Linked DNA regions of Homo sapiens: regions 1 and 3 are each reported to be linked to region 2. Evidence: microRNA targets listed by miRTarBase, many of them from high-throughput screens and not tested one by one. Region 2 holds a microRNA gene; each other region holds the end of a gene's coding sequence.

Region 1 (5,000 bases), not on the chromosome of region 2:
CCACCAAACCTTTTCTCTTCCTTTCGGGCCCACAGGAAACCATTTGGCACCTCCTCTGGAACGAAGGTGTGGCCGGCCACTTGAGATCTGGCTGTTGAGGCAGAGGTAGTGCATGTGACCCACGCGGTGAGAGGTCTGCTCCCCGCTGCTGCAGCCATCTGCGGTGGAGACCGTGAGTGTACACAGACAGTGCCATCTGAAGGGAACTCCACTGCCTCTATGTGCTACTTAGGCAGGGGCGACTGAGCCGGAGACTGCAGAAATGTGTCCGTCCCCACGGACAGCCTGGCTTAGCTGTCCGTGGCTGTCTCCTGCGGTGGAGGAGCACACTGGAGTGGCCCGTGCAGTGGACCAGAGCTTCCACCCACACTGTGTTCTGTCTCCTTTCCTAGAACACAACTGGACGTTTCCCACCTCCGTGCAAAATGAGTGGACATAAGGGGTGCCACTTCCACACCTGGCTCATGGAAGCTCCCAGATGGTCTCAGCCCTCCATGCTCCCCGCTACTTCAGGCGGGATGGAGATGGACGGCTCAGGTTGCTCTGATGCCTGCCTGCATAAGGGCTGCCCTGCCAGCCCATTCCCCTGCCCAATATTATGGAAGCAAAAACGTTCTATGGTGTTTGAGCCATTGTTGCTTTTCGGGTCTATTTATTACAGAACTAGCAGAGCCCTAATACAGTCATTGCTACGTGGCCATAATACATGTATTCTATAATTGCGCCTAATTTTATTCACCGGAGGGACGTCCTTTACTTTCAAGATTCTAAATTTTTCAGAAATGCAACATTCAAGGTTAAAGTCGCTGCTAGACCAAGGCTAAACCGTGGCGAGGTAGTTGCTTGCGCCGCAGAGTGTGGGTGTGAACAGCTGGAGCTCAGTGGTTCCTGGAGACTCAGGGACCACCTGTATTCCACATCCGGCTTCCCACCCACGCACACGCAGTATGACCTGGGTTTCCCCTTTATACAGTGGAATGCTAAGTGCCTACACCCTAGCCGGGGTCAGCCAACTATGGCCTGTGGGCACCATCCCACCTGCAGCCTGTTTTTGAGCTAAGAATGTTGTTGACACTTTTAAAAACAGAGAACATGTGACAGTCTGTACGTGGCCTGCAAAGCCTAAAATCTTTACTATCTGCGTCTGCTTTATAGGATTGCTGGGAGGATTACAAAGACTTTATTAGGCCAGTGCCCGGCTCAAAGTTAGCATGCCACACAAAATAATACGTACAGTACAGCTATTCACGTCTCCAAAAAGCAATTGTCCCACATCCAAATTTTGCATTTTGTCCAGTTGATGTCTCTCCTTCCCTCCAAAAAAAAAAAAAAAAAAAAAAGACAAAATAAAAACACGAAGAGCTGCATCTTGATCATCATGGACAGATACTTTTCAGTTAAAAAGTTGCTGGTAGTCTGAGTTCACTTACTTGGAGTATGGACTAAGGAGGGGAAAGCAAAGAGATGCGACATCAGCAGCAGAAAGCCTGCGACACGGCAGCTCTGCTCAGTTTTCTCCGTGGGGAAAGATCGGAACACTTACAAATGAGAACGGGACTTTAAGTAGATAGTATGCAATGGAAAACTGAGCCGGCAACAGTACTTAATGCTGGTTTTCTCAATAAAATCATTTTGCTGTGTAAACGCGCTTATAATGGGGATCTGTTATGAGTCTCAGGCAGGCGACATGAAAGCCGGCCTTTCAAAATCTGATTAGGTGGATAATGTTTGCAAACATGACGCCTGGCAAAACCGGTCTGATTCTAAGGTAAACTCATTTTGGACATAACTGATGTCTCACTGAGACAGCTTTTCAAAGCATGTCTGCAAACACCGGACCCCCGGGGACGGTGCGTGCGTGTAGGGGAGGGAAATTCCAGGGTTTCATATATCAAGATGACACACCCGCTGCACACTTCTCTTAGAAAGTCACGACGCACAGTACTGTGCGTCACAGGTATTGAGAAACACCACCATAGAGTCAATTGACTTTGTTTAACCTATAACCTTTTTTCCTCCCACATAGTAGGTAGTAACATCACACGGAAACAGTGCTCTGAAGACATTCTGGACACATCGTATACAGCACAGCCATTCAAATCAACGGCAACAGAACGCACGAAGAACCTGGTTTTCTTTCAAAGCATGAGCAGTTCTCATTTTACAACATGTGTTTTAACATAATTCAGAAAGTGCAATCTTTGCATGACAACCAGATAATTCTCAAAGGTTACTAGTGAGCTGATAAAATTAACGTTTGGCAAGGAGGTCATGGTTTACAGGTAGGCTGTCCGCTCACCAATGCTCAGAAAAATTCAGCAGAACATACTTTTCATATTTAGATCCGAAGAGAGGTGAGAGACATTCTACTCAAGTCATGGCTGGGCTTTCTGTCCTCAAACGAAATTGGGCAGGCCATTTGCGTGGTTTCTCTGGATAAGTTCCATTTATTAATCATTGTACAAAAAAATCTTGGCATTCATTTGAAGAGAAAAGAAGTTGCTATATCCAAATATTTAACATTTTAACATTGTGAAAGTTCAACGTTTATAACAGGGCTTTTTAAAATGGAGAAAAGTTTTGGAAAATTTTTAAAAAGAAACTTATGATTTATTAGAGTACAGGATCCAAAACACGTTTTTAGAAAAATATAAAGTGCCCAAATACCAACTTACACAGGTGATACAGGCTTCCTGGAGCCCCATGAAGCATTCATGAAGAAAGACATTTAAAAACAGTCTAGATACATATGTACAGCTGGGTCAGTAAAGGTAAAACCATCTTTCTTGACTTTGATGTGTCTAAGAAAAAAGGAAATCAATCAAACCAGAAAACCAACAATTGCAACTCTCAGCATGCTCAGGTTCTTATTAATGCATCTCATTCATATTAATTAATTCCGTATTATCAAACTTTCCCCTTTAAATGAAAGTAGTGTACAATCCTCCCAACCTTGGCGGGCCAGGTGCTGTGAGTGGTTACGTTTCCAGATGCAGGTTCAAATCCTTTGACTTTGGATTTGACTGATGAGGAACATGGACAGTGGATTAAATAGCTCATTCAGGCTGGAGGAGCCAGGGGCCAAATCCCCATCTCTTTCTAGTAACTGCTTAAAGCCTTCCCTTGCTATGAAGTGGTCTCAGGTGGCTTTCCAAACCTTGGTCACCCCAGGGTTTCCAAAGGGTAAACAAGCAGCAGGCATTCAACATGGGTGAGAATACTGCATGCAGATGGACAGACAGGTGCAGAGACAGGCCCCTAACGCCCCATTCACTAGAGCAACTGCATTATTTTAAATGTTGAGAGCAAAGTAACTAGGTCCTAACTTCGGAAGTTAGCTTCTATCGATTAATGACAAGATTAGCTCGCTTGAGAACTGGCAGGCCGAGAGTTGGTGGAGCTCCAGAGCTGCACAAAGGCGTGCAGTTACTCTGGGCTCAGTTACTGAGAACTTCGGAAAGGAGCCAGTGCCGTCCGAACACACGGTCAGGCTTTCCCAGAAGACGCCACAACAGGCTTCGTCCTGCTGCCGTCAGGACCCTGGCGGCTTGGAAAAGCAGATTCCAACACGCACATCTCCTTTCACACAAGTCCAACACTCTTCAAATGAAAGACATTCTCTCTCTTTCTAACCTGCCACATTCAAACAGGCCTTGAAGTGACTCTAAGGAATAACAAGAGGTGTGAAACCACTTTTTTTCCCTTCAAAACCTTTTTTTTTTTTTTTAAGGTTCATTAATTTTTTTTTTTCCTGATTACAAAAGCAAAACCTCATTTTTTGGTCTTTGAAGACCATGGAGTATGACTTCTAAGAGCAAACATTAACATCAGATTTGTATGTCTCACTACAAAAAGAACCCATCACTGATGTAAGACCTACTCATGATACTGAAGTAGATTTTTTAAATTAAAAAATAAAAGTAGTCATTTAAAATGGAGGAATTGTAGATGAGTATGGAAAAATCCATTCACAAAGTTCACTATTTGCATTTTCTAAAAGAATTTTATGTAATAAAATAGAAAACTAATGATTTATAGAGATGTGCATAAACTCAAGAGAGGAATATGGAAGGGAAAACTGTGTTATATTCCCATTTAAATTTAAAAAAAAAAGATAAAACACTTGAAATCTGTGTTTCACATATTAGAAAAAAATAAATTCAAATGATTCTAATTACCATTAGCTTGTTAATGTCTCCATCTCTAAGATGCTGCCAAGATAGCACACAACTTTACCTCTGAATATGCAACTAACTTCAGGGTAAAAAGACACACAGTCCTCACTCGGGACCGAACACGTTCCACAGAGAAATCAGAAGGAAATTATTGCAAATGCATAACCCCATCTGTCCAGCCAAGGAAATGTTCTGAGACAAATGCAGACAGACAGGGGAATGGAGTGAATACAAAGAATGATTACAGGAGCGTCGACTGTGAGACCTCATGAAGACAGAATGTCACAAACTGTCACCACAGGACAAGCATACAAGCCATGCCACTGACACAGTGCCTTTCAGATTAATTCACTAGTGTAGGCGGAGAGCAACATTGTCTTTGCAGCTGGGGAAGAGCACACGGTATTTAAACTTAGTAGGAGGCAACCAGCACTACTGGTGGAGTGGCTTTCCTGGTGCAGCAGGTCCCGAGGGCTCCGTGGAGACGTCTTCTTCCGGAGTCCCGTTCTCTTGGAAGATAGCAGCAGCAGCAAAGGTGCAATGTCCTCTCTAGACTTTACTCATCTATGTTCTCTTTCTTTGCACTGTAAATATTCTGCACCGTTTCATAGACAAACTCCAGATCTTCTGGATACCGGATCTCCAGCTCTGCGTTTGGGATGTAGTGAGTGCCAGTAAACTCTGAGAAATAGCGTCCCACGTCAGGGTGTGAGATTTCTTGAGGCTCCACGTTATATTCCAAGTTTTCTGTTGGTAAAGAGGCACACGGGCATTCTCATTACAATGTCCATTGCTGCCACACCTTTCATCCAGAGAACCTCCCAT
Region 2 (5,000 bases):
AAAACTGAGGCTCAAACAGGCTTCAAGTTTTCAAGGCCACACATTTAATAATGGCACTGAAAACAGATCCCAAGAGTCCTCACTCTTAAGTTCCTCTACACTATCCCATCAGGTTATGTATAACACATTTTTGAGTACTTACCATAGAAATGGCCAAATCCCATGCTGATTGCAATCACCAAAGCAAGTATAACACACTTATTGAGACCACTACTGAACTGACGTTTACTCAACTCCTTAGAAGGTTCAGTTTCTTGTTCAGCAACTAGCCGGTCTTCAGATTCTGAAGCAGAAACGGTCTTCTTCCTAGCACGGCGTCGTCTAAAGGCAGGACTGGGCTGATTACTGGTTTCATCACTACTTGATTCATCGTCACTAGGCTGAGATGAAAATACTATTAAGAAAAAAGTTGACATTTAGCTATTCAAAATCTTGGAAAAGCTTTCCCAGTAAAAATTATTTAGAATAATCAATGCCATCCCTTACATGCCTTTCTACATAAGATAGCCAAAAACAAAAACCAAACAACATAAACAAAAACACGGGTTTTCAACTCATCAACATAAAGCCAAAACATAAAGCATTTCAAATGTGATACACAAGAATCTGTTAATCATACTATTTGGTGCTTTGAGAGCCTATCTCTGTTTTTTTATTTAATCCTCCTCGCCTTATAGTTTACACTCTTAGAACAATCCTTCATTCGCATAGCCTCAAGTTTCATTGCTGGCCAGGAGCAGTGGCTCACGCCTGTAATCCCAGCACTTTGGGAGGCCGAGGCGGGCAGATCACCTGAGGTCAGGAGTTCGAGATCAGCCTGGCCAACATGGCGAAACCCCTTCTCTACTAAAAATACAAAAATTAGCCGGGCATGGTAGTGCACCTATAGTCCCAGCTACTTGGGAGGCTGAGGCAGGAGAATCACTTGAACCTGGGAGGTGGAGGTTGCAGTGAGCTGAGATCCTGCCACTATACTCCAGACTGGGAGACAGAGCAAAACTCTGTCTCAAAAGAAACAAAATTTCATTGCTATTACAGGTATAAACAAGTATTATTTCTGGAAAGAAAAAAAATACTCTCTGTCTCTTCATTCAGTTTCAAAGAGGTAATTTAAGTGCAACTATTTAAGGAACACAGGAAAGTACACAAGCATTTCCTGTGACTTATAAAGTAAAATAACTACCAAAAGTTTCCTTGGGTGTATCTGGTCTCTAGTTTCATTTCCAACCTAATTAGCCCATGATCAAGGTTCAAAGCACTGTATTTTAACATAGGTTTCCAGAAGTCAGATGAGCCCTTCCCTTCGACTGCCACTCTTACTAGAAGGTTATTAATTTTACCCTCTAGTAAATATGTCAGCATGAGGAAGTGACACAACAGCTATCTCCGATATTAAGGACTATTCTGGTGCTGCTCCTTTATGAAAATAATAGTAGAGAAAAACAAACTAGTGGGGAAAATTTGCACAAGAAATCCCAAGTCCAGGAAACAAATTCCCTGGAAAAAATCACCTTCAGTTTTTTCCAAATGCATAATTTCTTAACACTGTTTCTTATGTCAACAAACTATTATGTTGACACAGAAGCTTCAATTACTCAGAAATAATTTCCACAAGCTACTTAGAGGAAAAGCACTAAAAATAAGGATAAAATATGAACTCGAATACAAAGAGCTCTAAAACAACAAACATTCATGCTCCAGAAAAGCAAAAACAGTTCTTCAGAAGACAGGATATCCATGCCACAGGAAAGCTGGTGATTTAGGTTAGGCAATATTTTTCAGAGATGGATCATGGAGTATTCAGTTCACTTTCACACTTACAACAATAAACACAAAGACAGAAGGCACTACTGAAATGAATGAATATTCCTAATATTTAGTGATACAGATGCCACTGAGAGATCTTTTTGGTCATGACCCTTATGCCCATCATGTTTATCTGGTTATTCTTGATCACTAGTTTTTCAAAGATGCCGTCGCCTCAGGTGTGAGATTATATTTCTTGGACAAAGAGAAAGAAAGGAAGACTTAAACAAAGCATTACATAATACAAAGGCATTCATGATCATGGTTAGAGTATTTAAGTCAGGCTTTCTGACATAAAATTAAGATAGGTAAATGTAAAAACAAACCATTTGTAAAACTTATTTAAATAATTGTTCAATTCTACATTAACATTACCTTCATTATATATTCTAACAAAACAGCCTAACCCACATTAATATATTCATGTCCTTATCTAATGCTTCCAACTTTTTTAACCCATACATATAATAGCTGAAATATTTTGATTTTTAACTTCTTTTAAAAAAGCTTAATTTGGCCCATAGATGCAAGCAATGCAAAGGCATGCAATAAGCTTGGCCAGCTCCTTTACAAGAGATTCTGAACACCTGTTTAGAGTATTGCGGATGACAACAGGTATCTTTAAAGCACTCGGTAAATAGTAAATGTGACTAGGCACACTCAGCTCTAGAGAAGCTGGTCAGATTTAGTCACACCACCTTGGAAAGCGAGTTGGCTAGGAACATGGTGTTTCAGCTGATCATCCCATCCCCATATGCACTCAGGAATCTTCCACAGCTTCTCCCACCACCTTTCTTTTGTGAATAAACAGGAAAAAAAGAGGCATAAAGCTATATTATAAAGACTAAAAAGAAAAAAAAGAATTAAAAATACTTAATTATCACTTAACATTGTTATCCGTACAAAATTAAAACGTAATAACCATGCCTTCTTAAAAACACACAATACAAACTTCTCTACACTACCAACTTTGCTTTTTGTCAGGGAAGAGAGTTCATAAAGAGGAAGCAGGCAGTGTTCTTAACCCAACAAAACGTACACTGCCACAAGAATATAAGTCAGGAGAAGAAAAAATTGAAGTTGAAATCCTTAAGGATGAAGAAAGGGAAAGGAAAAAACAAAATTAAGCAATGGCTAGCACAAAATTAACAAACTAAAAGGGAAAAACAAAAACCATCTTTTTTATTTTTTTGAGACGGGGTCTCCCTCTATTGCCCAGGCTGGAGTGCAGTGGCGCAATCTTGGCTCACTGCAACCTCCGCCTCCTGGGTTCAAGAGATTCTCCTGCCTCAGCCTCCAGAGTAGCTGGGATTACAGGCCTGCGCTACCACAGGCAGCTAATCCCAAGTAGCTGGGATTACAGGCACCTGGCTAAATTTTGTATTTTCAGTAGAGAAGGGTTTTTGCCGTGTTGGTCAGGCTGGTCTCAAACTCCTTACCTCAGGTAATCTGCCTGCCTCAGTCTCCCAAAGTGCAGGGATTACAGGCATGAGCCAAAGTGCCCGGCCCCAAAACAAAAACTTTTGGCAACTGGTTTATATGCAGTGTTTTCAGTATAGTCCAAAATTTCGTCTTTAAACATTTGGTTTATTGAAACAATATCTTTAGGAGGAATAACAATGGGTAAAAATACAGTTAATCAAATATTCCTCTTAGTCCACAAAAATCTCAAGAAGTCAGAATTCAGAAAGAAGATAAATATTAGAAGAATGGTCTTAGAACTATACAACTTCCTGAAAAAAGTTAATATGTAATTTCTTTCTTTTTTTGAGATGGTGCTGGGATTACAGGCGTGAGCCACCACGCCCAGCAACAGTATGTAGTTCCTTTTACGTCTATGTCAGTTTCTTATATATCTGACCATTCTATAATACTCTGGCTTCAATTTGACTTTTCTGGGCCATGAATATTCTCTAATTAAACCAGAGGCAGGAAAGGAAGCGGGGGTGGGGAAACTACCTGAATACAACACAAATCCTGGAGTTTAAAAAAATAATAATAAAATTTGATGACTAACAAGGATTCTAAAATCAATTACAATACCCCTCCATAAATAAAGATACTATGAATGCTATTCTAACAAAGCCTGAAGTTTTCCTCTGAACATCAAGAATGTCACATGAATATTCAAATAGCTGGAAAAAGTGTTTTCACGTTCATGTTTATAGGCAAACCACTGATATACTAACTGAAAATAACTTCTCATTAAATGAGATAGCCAAGAATCTCTACTTTTTTTTTTTTTTTTTGAGACAGGATCCTGCTCTGTCACCCAGGTTGGCAATCTGGGTGCAGTGGCGCAATCTCAGCTCACTACAGCCTCAACCTCCCAGGCTCAAGCAATCCTCCCACCTCAGCCTCCCAAGTGGCTGGGACCACATGCGCACGCCATCATGCCTGGCTTTTTATTATTTGTAGAGATGAGGTCTCGCTATGTTGCCCAGGCTGGTCTCGAAATCCTGGGTTCAGGTAATCCACCTGCCTCAGCTTTACAAAGTGCTGGAATTACTGGCATGAGCCACTATGCCCAGCCAAGAACCTCTACTTGACATTTTATTAGCTTAAACTGGAATGACAGAAATTCTATTGTCTGATTCTGGTTGGCAAATGTAAATATTAAAGAATGGTAAAATCTAAAAAAATTATCTAAAATAGATACTACCTGTTTCCTGTTTCTTCGTCAAATTAGGAAATTTTTAGAATCACTAGCAGTGTTTCAAGTTGTCTCTGCCATAACTCACGCTTAGTTATAATTGTGGCTTAATAACTGATATATCCAGGAACTTTATACCTACATACTTACATCACATTAAAAGATGTTATACATACTGCTAAAACTGAGCTGAAGCATAGCAGAAAGAAATCAAGCAACTCACACTTTAATCTCTGAATGAGTCTGTCTGTACAACGGGCATTGATTGCATTAAAAATGTGGCTTACACTAGTGACATTTTCATAACAGAATCTAAAACAAAAGATCTGAAGGTCACGAGCTTTGGAAGACTAGCTGTATTGATAGCACCTTGAACTCTGTTTCACATATGGTAGGTACTCAATAAATGTTTGTTGCATGATTAATAATTGAATATATCTGAAGAGACTTTAATAACAATTTTTTTCACTATTTCTATATTACAAAATGTACACTACTGCAAGCAAAAATATTAACATCCCCAATCTCCCACTCTTAAAGA
Region 3 (9,835 bases), not on the chromosome of region 2:
TTTCTTTATATTGAGTTGAGGAAAATAAACTTGTCTGACTTAGTAAAAATTTCACTTCAAATATCTAAAGTGCAACGAGAAGCAAAAAGAGAAAAAAAATCCATGAGGATTTGGTTTTAAAGTCTGGTGAGTGAACCTATGTGATCAGAGTGTTGGGTTGGTTTACACATTGACCTGGCACACATGTGGGTTTTTAAAGCCCTCTGGGATTCTCTGGGGGTGAAGAACTTAAGGATCAATGCTGTTAAGACTGCAAAGTGGGGGAAAAAGACTGTAAAGTGACTGGTGCATTTGAAGGTCTGTCTGTGGCTTGCTGTTCCTTTATGGGAAAGCTAAAGTTTTCTCTTTTTTTTTCTTGTAACAATTCTATCATTATTTTAATTGATATTTACAGATTTTTCCCTCCATCTTCTGTTATAATTTTTAGGTGCTTCAGAACTGGGCCCTTTTTCAGACCCCAGGCAGTTCCCAAGCATTTCATCCCTCACTGAGAGCCGCTTCTCCAACCCACGAATGCACTATCCAGCCACCTTTACTTACACCCCGCCAGTCACCTCAGGCATGTCCCTCGGTATGTCCGCCACCACTCACTACCACACCTACCTGCCACCACCCTACCCCGGCTCTTCCCAAAGCCAGAGTGGACCCTTCCAGACCAGCAGCACTCCATATCTCTACTATGGCACTTCGTCAGGATCCTATCAGTTTCCCATGGTGCCGGGGGGAGACCGGTCTCCTTCCAGAATGCTTCCGCCATGCACCACCACCTCGAATGGCAGCACGCTATTAAATCCAAATTTGCCTAACCAGAATGATGGTGTTGACGCTGATGGAAGCCACAGCAGTTCCCCAACTGTTTTGAATTCTAGTGGCAGAATGGATGAATCTGTTTGGCGACCATATTGAAATTCCTCAGCAGTGGCCCAGTGGTATCTGGGGGCCACATCCCACACGTATCAATATATACATATATAGAGAGAGTGCATATATATGTATATCGATTAGCTATCTACAAAGTGCCTATTTTTTAGAAGATTTTTCATTCACTCACTCAGTCATGATCTTGCAGCCATAAGAGGGTAGATATTGAGAAGCAGAAGGCTCAAGAGAGACAATTGCAATCGAGCTTCAGATTGTTTACTATTTAAGATGTACTTTTACAAAGGAACAAAGAAGGGAAAAGGTATTTTTGTTTTTGTTGTTTGGTCTGTTATCATCAATAACCTGTTCATATGCCAATTCAGAGAGGTGGACTCCAGGTTCAGGAGGGAGAAGAGCAAAGCCGCTTCCTCTCTGTGCTTTGAAACTTCACACCCTCACGGTGGCAGCTGTGTATGGACCAGTGCCCTCCGCAGACAGCTCACAAAACCAGTTGAGGTGCACTAAAGGGACATGAGGTAGAATGGATGCTTCCATCACAGTACCATCATTCAGAATAACTCTTCCAATTTCTGCTTTCAGACATGCTGCAGGTCCTCATCTGAACTGTTGGGTTCGTTTTTTTTTTTTTTTTTCCTGCTCCAAGAAAGTGACTTCAAAAATAACTGATCAGGATAGATTATTTTATTTTACTTTTTAACACTCCTTCTCCCCTTTTCCCACTGAACCAAAAAGAAATCCCATCCCTAAAACCTGCCTTCTCCTTTTATGCAAAACTGAAAATGGCAATACATTATTATAGCCATAATGGTATAGATAGTGATTGCGTTTGGCTATGTGTTGTTTTCTTTTTTTTTAAATTATGAATATGTGTAAAATCTGAGGTAACTTGCTAACGTGAATGGTCATATAACTTTAAAGATATATTTATAATTATTTAATGACATTTGGACCCTTGAAACATTTCTTAGTGTATTGATATGTTGACTTCGGTCTCTAAAAGTGCTCTTTATTAAATAACAAATTTCTTCAGTGGTCTAGAGCCATATCTGAAATATTGCTAAGCAATTTCAGTTCATCCAGGCACAATGTGATTTTAAAAAATACTTCCATCTCCAAATATTTTAGATATAGATTGTTTTTGTGATGTATGAAGGAAATGTTATGTTTAGTTCTTTCAGATCTTTGAATGCCTCTAACACAGCTTTGCCTTCTAAAGCGGTAATTAGGGATTTAAAAAACAACCTTTAGCCCTTTATCAGCATGAAATGCTGGAGTGATGTGGTTTTCTAATTTCTTTGGGGTAATTATGACTCTTGTCATATTAAAAAGACAAGCACAAGTAAATCATTGAACTACAGAAAAATGTTCTGTGGTTTCATAGTTAAGCAAAACTCTAAATCGCCAGGCTTCATAGCAAAGACATAGTCAGCTAAAAGCCGCACATGTGGATAGAGGGTTCAATTATGAGACACCTAGTACAGGAGAGCAAAATTGCACCAGAGATTCTTAACCAACCAGCCTTACCAAACAACACAACAGGGGAACCCCAATCTGCCTTACCCAAGGCCCCACTGGCAGCTTTCCACAGAATTTGCATTTAGAGGAGCAGAATGACATCACTGTCCTTTGGGAGTAGGTCCTCTGAAAAGGCAGCAGGTTCCAGCAGGTAGCTGAGCTGAGAGGACATATGGCCCACGGGGACCTACAGACAGCCTTTGACATTTGTATTTCTTACAATGGAGGGCCAAGGAGGGCAAGGGGCTGTGGAGTTTGGTGTCTACTAGTGTGTATGAATTTGAGCTAGAGTCCTTCTGTGGCATGCACTTTGACCACTCCTGGCAGTCACATGGCAGATTTCCAAGTGCAAATCCTTAATCCAAACAAGGATCATCTAATGACACCACCAGGCCAATCCCTGCTCTCCTCCCCGAAAAGTCAGGGTCCCTTCATTGGAATCCTCCACCCACCCAAGCAGAATTTAGCAGAGATTTGCCTTCAAACCCTAACGGCCCCCTTGTTCTCTGGTCCTTCTCAAACCCACCTTTGTAGGCCACCCAGCATTGCAGGACAGCGTGTGGGGCAGCTGGACCTGTGCTTCCTGCCTGGGAGTCTCCCTTGGAATTCATCCTGACTCCTTCTAATAAAAATGGATGGGAAAGCAAAACACTTTGCCTTCTAAAGGCCGTATACCAAGTATGCTTAGATAAATAAGCCACTTTTCTATTACTTAAGTAAGAAGGAAGTAGTAATTGATACTATTTATTGTTTGTGTGTGGTAGCTTGAAGCACACCACTGTCCATTTATTTGTAAGTGTAAAATATGTGTGTTTGTTTCAGCAGCACTTAAAAAAGCCAGTGTCTGGTTACACATTTCAATTTTAATTAATTGACATAAAAATGCTACCGCCAGTGCCAGCTGCATCCTATTTAATTAAAAAGGTACTATATTTGTACATTATTTTTTAATGTTAAAAGGGCTTTTTTAAGTTTACAGTACACATACCGAGTGACTTTAGGGATGCTTTTGTGTTGAAATGTTACTATAGTGGCTGCAGGCAGCAACCCAGAAACACTTTAGAAGCTTTTTTTCCTTGGGAAAAATTCAAGCACTTCTTCCCTCCACCCTCACTCCAACCACCCCAATGGGGGTAATTCACATTTCTTAGAACAAATTCTGCCCTTTTTTGGTCTAGGGATTAAAATTTTGTTTTTCTTTCTTTCTTTTTTTTTTTTTTTCACTGAACCCTTAATTTGCACTGGGTCATGTGTTTGATTTGTGATTTCAAGACCAAAGCAAAGTCTTACTACTACTGTGGAACCATGTACTAGTTCCTGGGAATTAAAATAGCGTGGTTCTCTTTGTAGCACAAACATTGCTGGAATTTGCAGTCTTTTCAATGCAGCCACATTTTTATCCATTTCAGTTGTCTCACAAATTTTAACCCATATCAGAGTTCCAGAACAGGTACCACAGCTTTGGTTTTAGATTAGTGGAATAACATTCAGCCCAGAACTGAGAAACTCAACAGATTAACTATCGTTTGCTCTTTAGACGGTCTCACTGCCTCTCACTTGCCAGAGCCCTTTCAAAATGAGCAGAGAAGTCCACACCATTAGGGACCATCTGTGATAAATTCAGAAGGGAGGAGATGTGTGTACAGCTTTAAGGATTCCCTCAATTCCGAGGAAAGGGACTGGCCCAGAATCCAGGTTAATACATGGAAACACGAAGCATTAGCAAAAGTAATAATTATACCTATGGTATTTGAAAGAACAATAATAAAAGACACTTCTTCCAAACCTTGAATTTGTTGTTTTTAGAAAACGAATGCATTTAAAAATATTTTCTATGTGAGAATTTTTTAGATGTGTGTTTACTTCATGTTTACAAATAACTGTTTGCTTTTTAATGCAGTACTTTGAAATATATCAGCCAAAACCATAACTTACAATAATTTCTTAGGTATTCTGAATAAAATTCCATTTCTTTTGGATATGCTTTACCATTCTTAGGTTTCTGTGGAACAAAAATATTTGTAGCATTTTGTGTAAATACAAGCTTTCATTTTTATTTTTTCCAATTGCTATTGCCCAAGAATTGCTTTCCATGCACATATTGTAAAAATTCCGCTTTGTGCCACAGGTCATGATTGTGGATGAGTTTACTCTTAACTTCAAAGGGACTATTTGTATTGTATGTTGCAACTGTAAATTGAATTATTTGGCATTTTTCTCATGATTGTAATATTAATTTGAAGTTTGAATTTAATTTTCAATAAAATGGCTTTTTTGGTTTTGTTATGTGTGTACCTTGGGTCTTTTCTTGTTCACGGTTTCTCCCTAGTCTGATGTCTACTCCTGCTTACACCTGGGCACTGTTTGGTCTTAGGACTTGCCAGGGCTAGTTAAGAGAAGAGATGCTATATTACTGGGGAGAAGAAAAAAAATCTTGGTAAACGGTGTCTTCTTGTTTTGTCCTGTTCCTAGCGAGGGGTGGGCAAAGAATCTAGCAGTGAACTCACTTCCTTACTAGCTTGTGTCTGAAGGAAGGAGTGCTCACCTCATCCTTGAGTAAGGCCATTTATTCCAACTGGGGGACCTATCAGGCGTATAGATGCAGTCTCGATGGCTTCATGATTCTAATCTCTGAGAACATGAACAGGGCCCCGCAAGTGAACCTCTGGCTATCAACAGAAGATCTCAGGCAGCCCAGATATAGGCTAGTCTGTTTTCCTTTCCACATCTCTTTTGGGTTCTTAAAAATAAAGTCAACCAAAGCCCAAGGATGAGTAAAAACGGACCTTGGCCTGGAGGGCTATAGCCTCAGAAGAATTCTCCTAGTGAACATAACTATAGTTTGGAGATTTTTTTTTCCCGTGGCCATTGTTTATTTTTGGTAAGTCCCCCCCCTTGTGATAAGGTTGAAGACCTGGGGTAGAAAGGTTGCTTTCTCTGTGTCCTATGCTTTCTGAATGCTTGGGCTCACCACAATTCTAAAATAGGGACCCAGGAAAACATGGTGCAGAGAAGGTCAGCCAGTGGCCAAGCTGACCCACATCACAGGGAGAGTTAGAGACCTTGAAGATCTGCTCATTCTTAACCCTTTGGCACTATTTTCTAAGAAATCTTGGAAATAGTTAAATTCCAAGAATAGGAAATGTCCTGAAAGCACTTGGGTGAGCTTAAGCCAGGGAACTTGTCTGCAACTCTGAGGATGTAGATTTATTTATTTAAAAAAAAATCAAACATCTGTGTGACTTTAAAGGGCATTCACAAGGGAGGTGGTCACAGTGGCTTGCTTTCTGTCTCCAGTTTTCTCTATCAGGATGGTCTAGGGCAAATCCCTTTATTCCTCTGTGTCTCAGTTTCTTGGTTTATGAAAAGGCATTGGGCTAGATCTTGGCACTATTGACATTTCAGACTGGGTAATTCTTTTTGTGTGTGTGTGTCAGGGATGCTCTCCTGTGTATTGTAGGATGTTTAGCAGCATTCCTAGCCTCTACCCACTAAAAGTTAGTAGCACCTCCCTAGTTAGGACAATCAAAAATGTCTCCAGATGTTGCCAAATGGTCCCTGGGTGGCAAGATCACCACCGATTGAGAACCACTTAGCTAGAGGCTTTATTGACAGAACTGATATGAGAATACATTGCTTATTAAATCAGAGTAGCCAGGCAGAGGCTGAGGGACTTCCCAGTGATGGCTACACCTCAACCTTTTCCATCCCTTCACTTGATTTGGATGTATCATGAGGGCTGCTGTTGGCTTTTTCGTCTGCACCTCTTCACTCCTCTCTGCAACATGGGCTGTGCAGCCAGTGAACAGCCCAGCTGTGGGGCTTTGTTAAGCCTGGATTGGTTGGCCATATTTATCATGGCCTGTTTCTCACTGAAACGGCAGGCGGAAGAAGAAAGCAATTTCTGCAGTGTTTTTGACCCCTGGTGTCCCCTATCCCCCAAATATTTAATCATCAGGCATTTCTGCAAGAGTGGGTGTTTCCTGTTAACTCAATCCCAGCCGGGACTGGCCCAATAAACACCTCAGGTCTCTGTCATAGAGTTTATTTGGCTGGGAAATGGGTATTGCCATGTAAACAGGAAGGCCCCTGAAGTTATTATCTACAGACGCAGTGGAAGAGCCGCATGTTTATATTTATGGGACTTGAAAACAGTATGAAAGGCAAGGGAGGATGTCAGGGAAGCCCTCATTGGCAGTCAGTGAGAGCAGGTCCTACAGCTCTTTATTAGTTAATTTTTCATTCTCTCTGGAAATGGTTGGTAAACAATAATGACCTAGCCAAGAGCCACTGCAGAAATGGAGGTACTGGCTTGCCTGTACCTAGATTACCAGGTTAACAATAAGAAATGCTATCAGTTGGCCTCTCTGTCCTAACTATTCGAAAATTATTTTAGAGATCAGTCCTAGGAAGCAACAATTTGGAGGTATCTAAAAAGGATGCTTATGAAACAGTGTCACCATCTCTAAGTTCTTCTGGGGAAGTGGAGGACAACTCAACTGACTGCTCCAGTTGTAGTGAGTGTGGGCCAGCTCACCTGTGAAAATCCCAAGCAAATTCTCATGCATTCACTCCTTAGTCAGTTTCTGTGAGGCTGGAAAGGACATCTTCATGCAAGAGTTCATAACACCTGAGCTGTCCAGGTATTGGTACTGGGAATCAGGCTTACACCCTAGGCCTATGCACCCCAGGTATACTCCAAATTGCTCCCAACCCTTCTCGGCTCTTCCATTGTCTCTCTCCTCTGGCCCGGAAAAGGTGCTAAGAAAGGCCAGGTAGGAACCAGTATGTGGAGAGCTGATACTCTTGATTTAAACTCTGGGTTCTGAGCAAAGGCAAGGGAGTCTTTCCTTCCTCACCACCATTGCTGTGGACCCTGAGAAGCCTCTTTGTGTCTTCTTAGGGGCTTCTCAGCGGTAACTACTCAATCAGGAGGCCTTGGAAAGGAAATTTTAAAAAGTTATGAATCAAAACTTACCAAGGAAAAGGATCCAGTGAAGACGCAAAGGGTAATACACCAGGGATGTGTGTGTGTGGGCGTGTGTGTGGTGTATGTGTGTGTGTGTGTGGGGTGTATGTATGTGTGTGTATATGTGTCTGTGGTGCATGTGTGTATGTGTATTTATGTGTGTGGTGCATGTGTGTATGTGTGTGGTGTGTATGTGCACGTATATGTATATGTGTGTGTATATGTGTATACGGGTGTGTGGTGTGTGTCTATGTGTGTATGTGTGCATGTGTGGTGTGTGTATGTGTGTATATGTGTGTGGTGTGTGTGTGGTGTGTATGTGTGTGGTGTGTGTGTGCATGTGTATGTGTGTGTGTGGTGTGTGTATGTGTGTGTGGTGTGTATGTGTGGTGTGTGTGTGCATGTGTATGTGTGTGTATATGTGTGTGGTGTGTGTGCATGTGTATGTATGTGCATGTGTGTGTATATGTGTGGTGCATGTGTATGTGTCTGTGTGTGGTGTGGTGTATGTGTGTATGTGTGTATATGTGTATGCACACACAGGTATGTGTGTGCCTGAAGGGAGGGAAGGAGGAGGGTGAAGTTTGGAAAGGGTACCTGAACAGCCACCCACTCAGAGAAAGATGGGGCTCACCACCCCTGCACATGTACTCAGGAGACACAGTGTTTCTTGGCCTCAGTTTTTTATTTCTGCAAATTCTTCAAAAAAAAAAAAAAGTACTGCCTTTATCCCACAAGTGATAAAGAAACAATTACTTGTCTTCAAATAGGTTACTGGGACAAGGGACACTGGATGCTCCTTGATATGTCAATTAAGGGAGCAGGGAGAAGCTAACATTTAAGGAGTTTTTAGTAATTTTTGTAAAGCTATTATTCAAAAGTTTGTGACTCAATCCAGCCCTGCTATTCAGATATGCTCAGCCATTTGGGAAGCAGAGGGATCAAATTTCTGGAAACACATTTAACATTTACCAAAATGTCTTTTAATTCGTTTCTTATTATCTTGTTGCATTGATGTCAGGCCACTTAGTGGGGTTTTCTGCAAAACTTGCTTCCTGTTTTAGCACTGCAAACATAGCTCACTTCTTGATTGCTATCTATTCTTTCCAGGTCATTCTGTCCCACTCTGTAGCCAATAAAAAGGGAAGAATTTCCCCCACCTGCTATTCTTATAAAGAAATCAAGGACATAGAGCAAAATACTTTTAACAAAAAGGCAAAATTCTTCCACATAAGCCCTTCAGGGAGTAGCTCTTGGAGCAGTAACATTAAATGGGACCAGAACACAAAAGCGCACAGGCTCATGTGGCCTTAGGAAATTTCTCTGGGAGGACCAAAAGTACTAGAGTTAACCCGAATGTGGAAAATGGAAATAGGATAGAGTGAGCTTCGTGGAATTAGAGATACAGTATATAATGGCAGAAACTAAGGGTGTTTTTGAGAGATGGGAATGCCAAGAACACCCGAAACACAATTGGATGATGGATTGATAGAAAAGTACAAATTTATTTAAAAGCAGCAAAAAGCAGATAACAAAATCACATGACATGTAGAATTGTGGCACGATTAATAAAACAGTGTTAGGATTTAAATCACCTTCGACATCCTCTCTTTCCTAAACCAAGTCACCTATGTATCCTAACTCCATCTATCTCCAGCAGTGAAATAGTTGGACCAATTTCATTTTCTGTTTCTCTGTGAGTTTCCCTTCATTCTTCTGCCCCCAAATGAGAGGAGCGTTTTGTGGGATCATTATTTATCCCAGAAATGCTTCAGCCTGATTTTGTTCTCCCTAACCATCATTTAGTATTTAAAATCCTAGAAATCACAATGACTTTACTCTTTTTTAGTAGAGTGCTTAAAGAGTCTTTGTGTGTGTAGATTTGGGGGCGTAGAACATTTGGCTCCTTACAGAAATCTTATTTATGGCTTCACAGATGAGAAATACAGAGATTATTATTGAATACGATTCTCAACCACACCTTCTGGAGCACAAACTGTGAGCTCAGGTTGTGCAGGGAAAGATTGGTGAACCAACCGTCATTCCTCGTGGGCATGAGAGGGAGAGAAGGATCCAAGGAGAAAGCAAGTTTGAACTTCAGCAAGGAGTTAAGTGGTTAATAGGAACTCAGTTTTTTTTTTTATTGGCTAATAAAACCTCTCAGCGTTTTTCATATTATATGGTCCCTTCAGGCTCCTAGCCCAATGGCTTAAAAAAAGGGAAAGACAAAAACAACAACAAAAAGCTGGAGCCTAAATACCAATGCAGTCCCAGTCTTGTTTACTTTTTCATTTCCGCAGTTGTAAAAAAAAAAAAAAAAATTCCTCTGGTAGTTCAACTTTATCATAGGAATTGCAGGAACGGACCGGTGTTTGAACAACTCCAGTCATTCCTGCCTCCCAGTGAAAGGAAAAAATATGCTCTGCCTGTGTGTGCCTGTTTCAGAAAAAAAGTTGACCACGCTGCAAG

Evidence for each region. Region 2 holds the annotated microRNA hsa-miR-628-3p (UCUAGUAAGAGUGGCAGUCGA, at 1,304-1,324, opposite strand). A microRNA usually pairs through its seed, bases 2 to 8, with sites in the 3' UTR of a target mRNA and lowers its output. Matches are read on the target gene's strand: a 7mer-m8 pairs with bases 2 to 8, a 7mer-A1 pairs with bases 2 to 7 and ends in A, and an 8mer does both.
Region 1: the mRNA of FBXO21 is a reported target of hsa-miR-628-3p. Seed matches in the 3' UTR shown: 8mer at 3,099-3,106.
Region 3: miRTarBase lists RUNX2 as a target of hsa-miR-628-3p. The part of its 3' UTR that is shown has no 7-base or 8-base seed match.

What each region holds. Positions count from the first base shown.
Region 1 is chr12:117,141,356-117,146,355 of GRCh38, forward strand. It overlaps FBXO21 (F-box protein 21), which reads right to left. Exons shown (of 12, transcript NM_015002.3): 12 at 636-4,922. The coding sequence ends at 4,732. It overlaps TESC-AS1 (TESC antisense RNA 1), which reads left to right. Exons shown (of 3, transcript NR_120464.1): 3 at 36-134. Among named protein-coding and RNA genes, the nearest start is that of TESC-AS1, 44 kb to the left of the region's middle. RefSeq lists enhancers at 1,437-2,636, 2,037-2,116.
Region 2 is chr15:55,371,651-55,376,650 of GRCh38, forward strand. It overlaps MIR628 (microRNA 628), which reads right to left and starts at 1,384; the gene lies at 1,290-1,384. CCPG1 (cell cycle progression 1) reads right to left here. Exons shown (of 9, transcript NM_001204450.2): 6 at 143-394. It overlaps DNAAF4-CCPG1 (DNAAF4-CCPG1 readthrough (NMD candidate)), which reads right to left. Exons shown (of 16, transcript NR_037923.1): 13 at 143-394.
Region 3 is chr6:45,546,400-45,556,234 of GRCh38, forward strand. It overlaps RUNX2 (RUNX family transcription factor 2), which reads left to right. Exons shown (of 9, transcript NM_001024630.4): 9 at 428-4,683. The coding sequence ends at 906. Among named protein-coding and RNA genes, the nearest start is that of RUNX2-AS1, 25 kb to the right of the region's middle.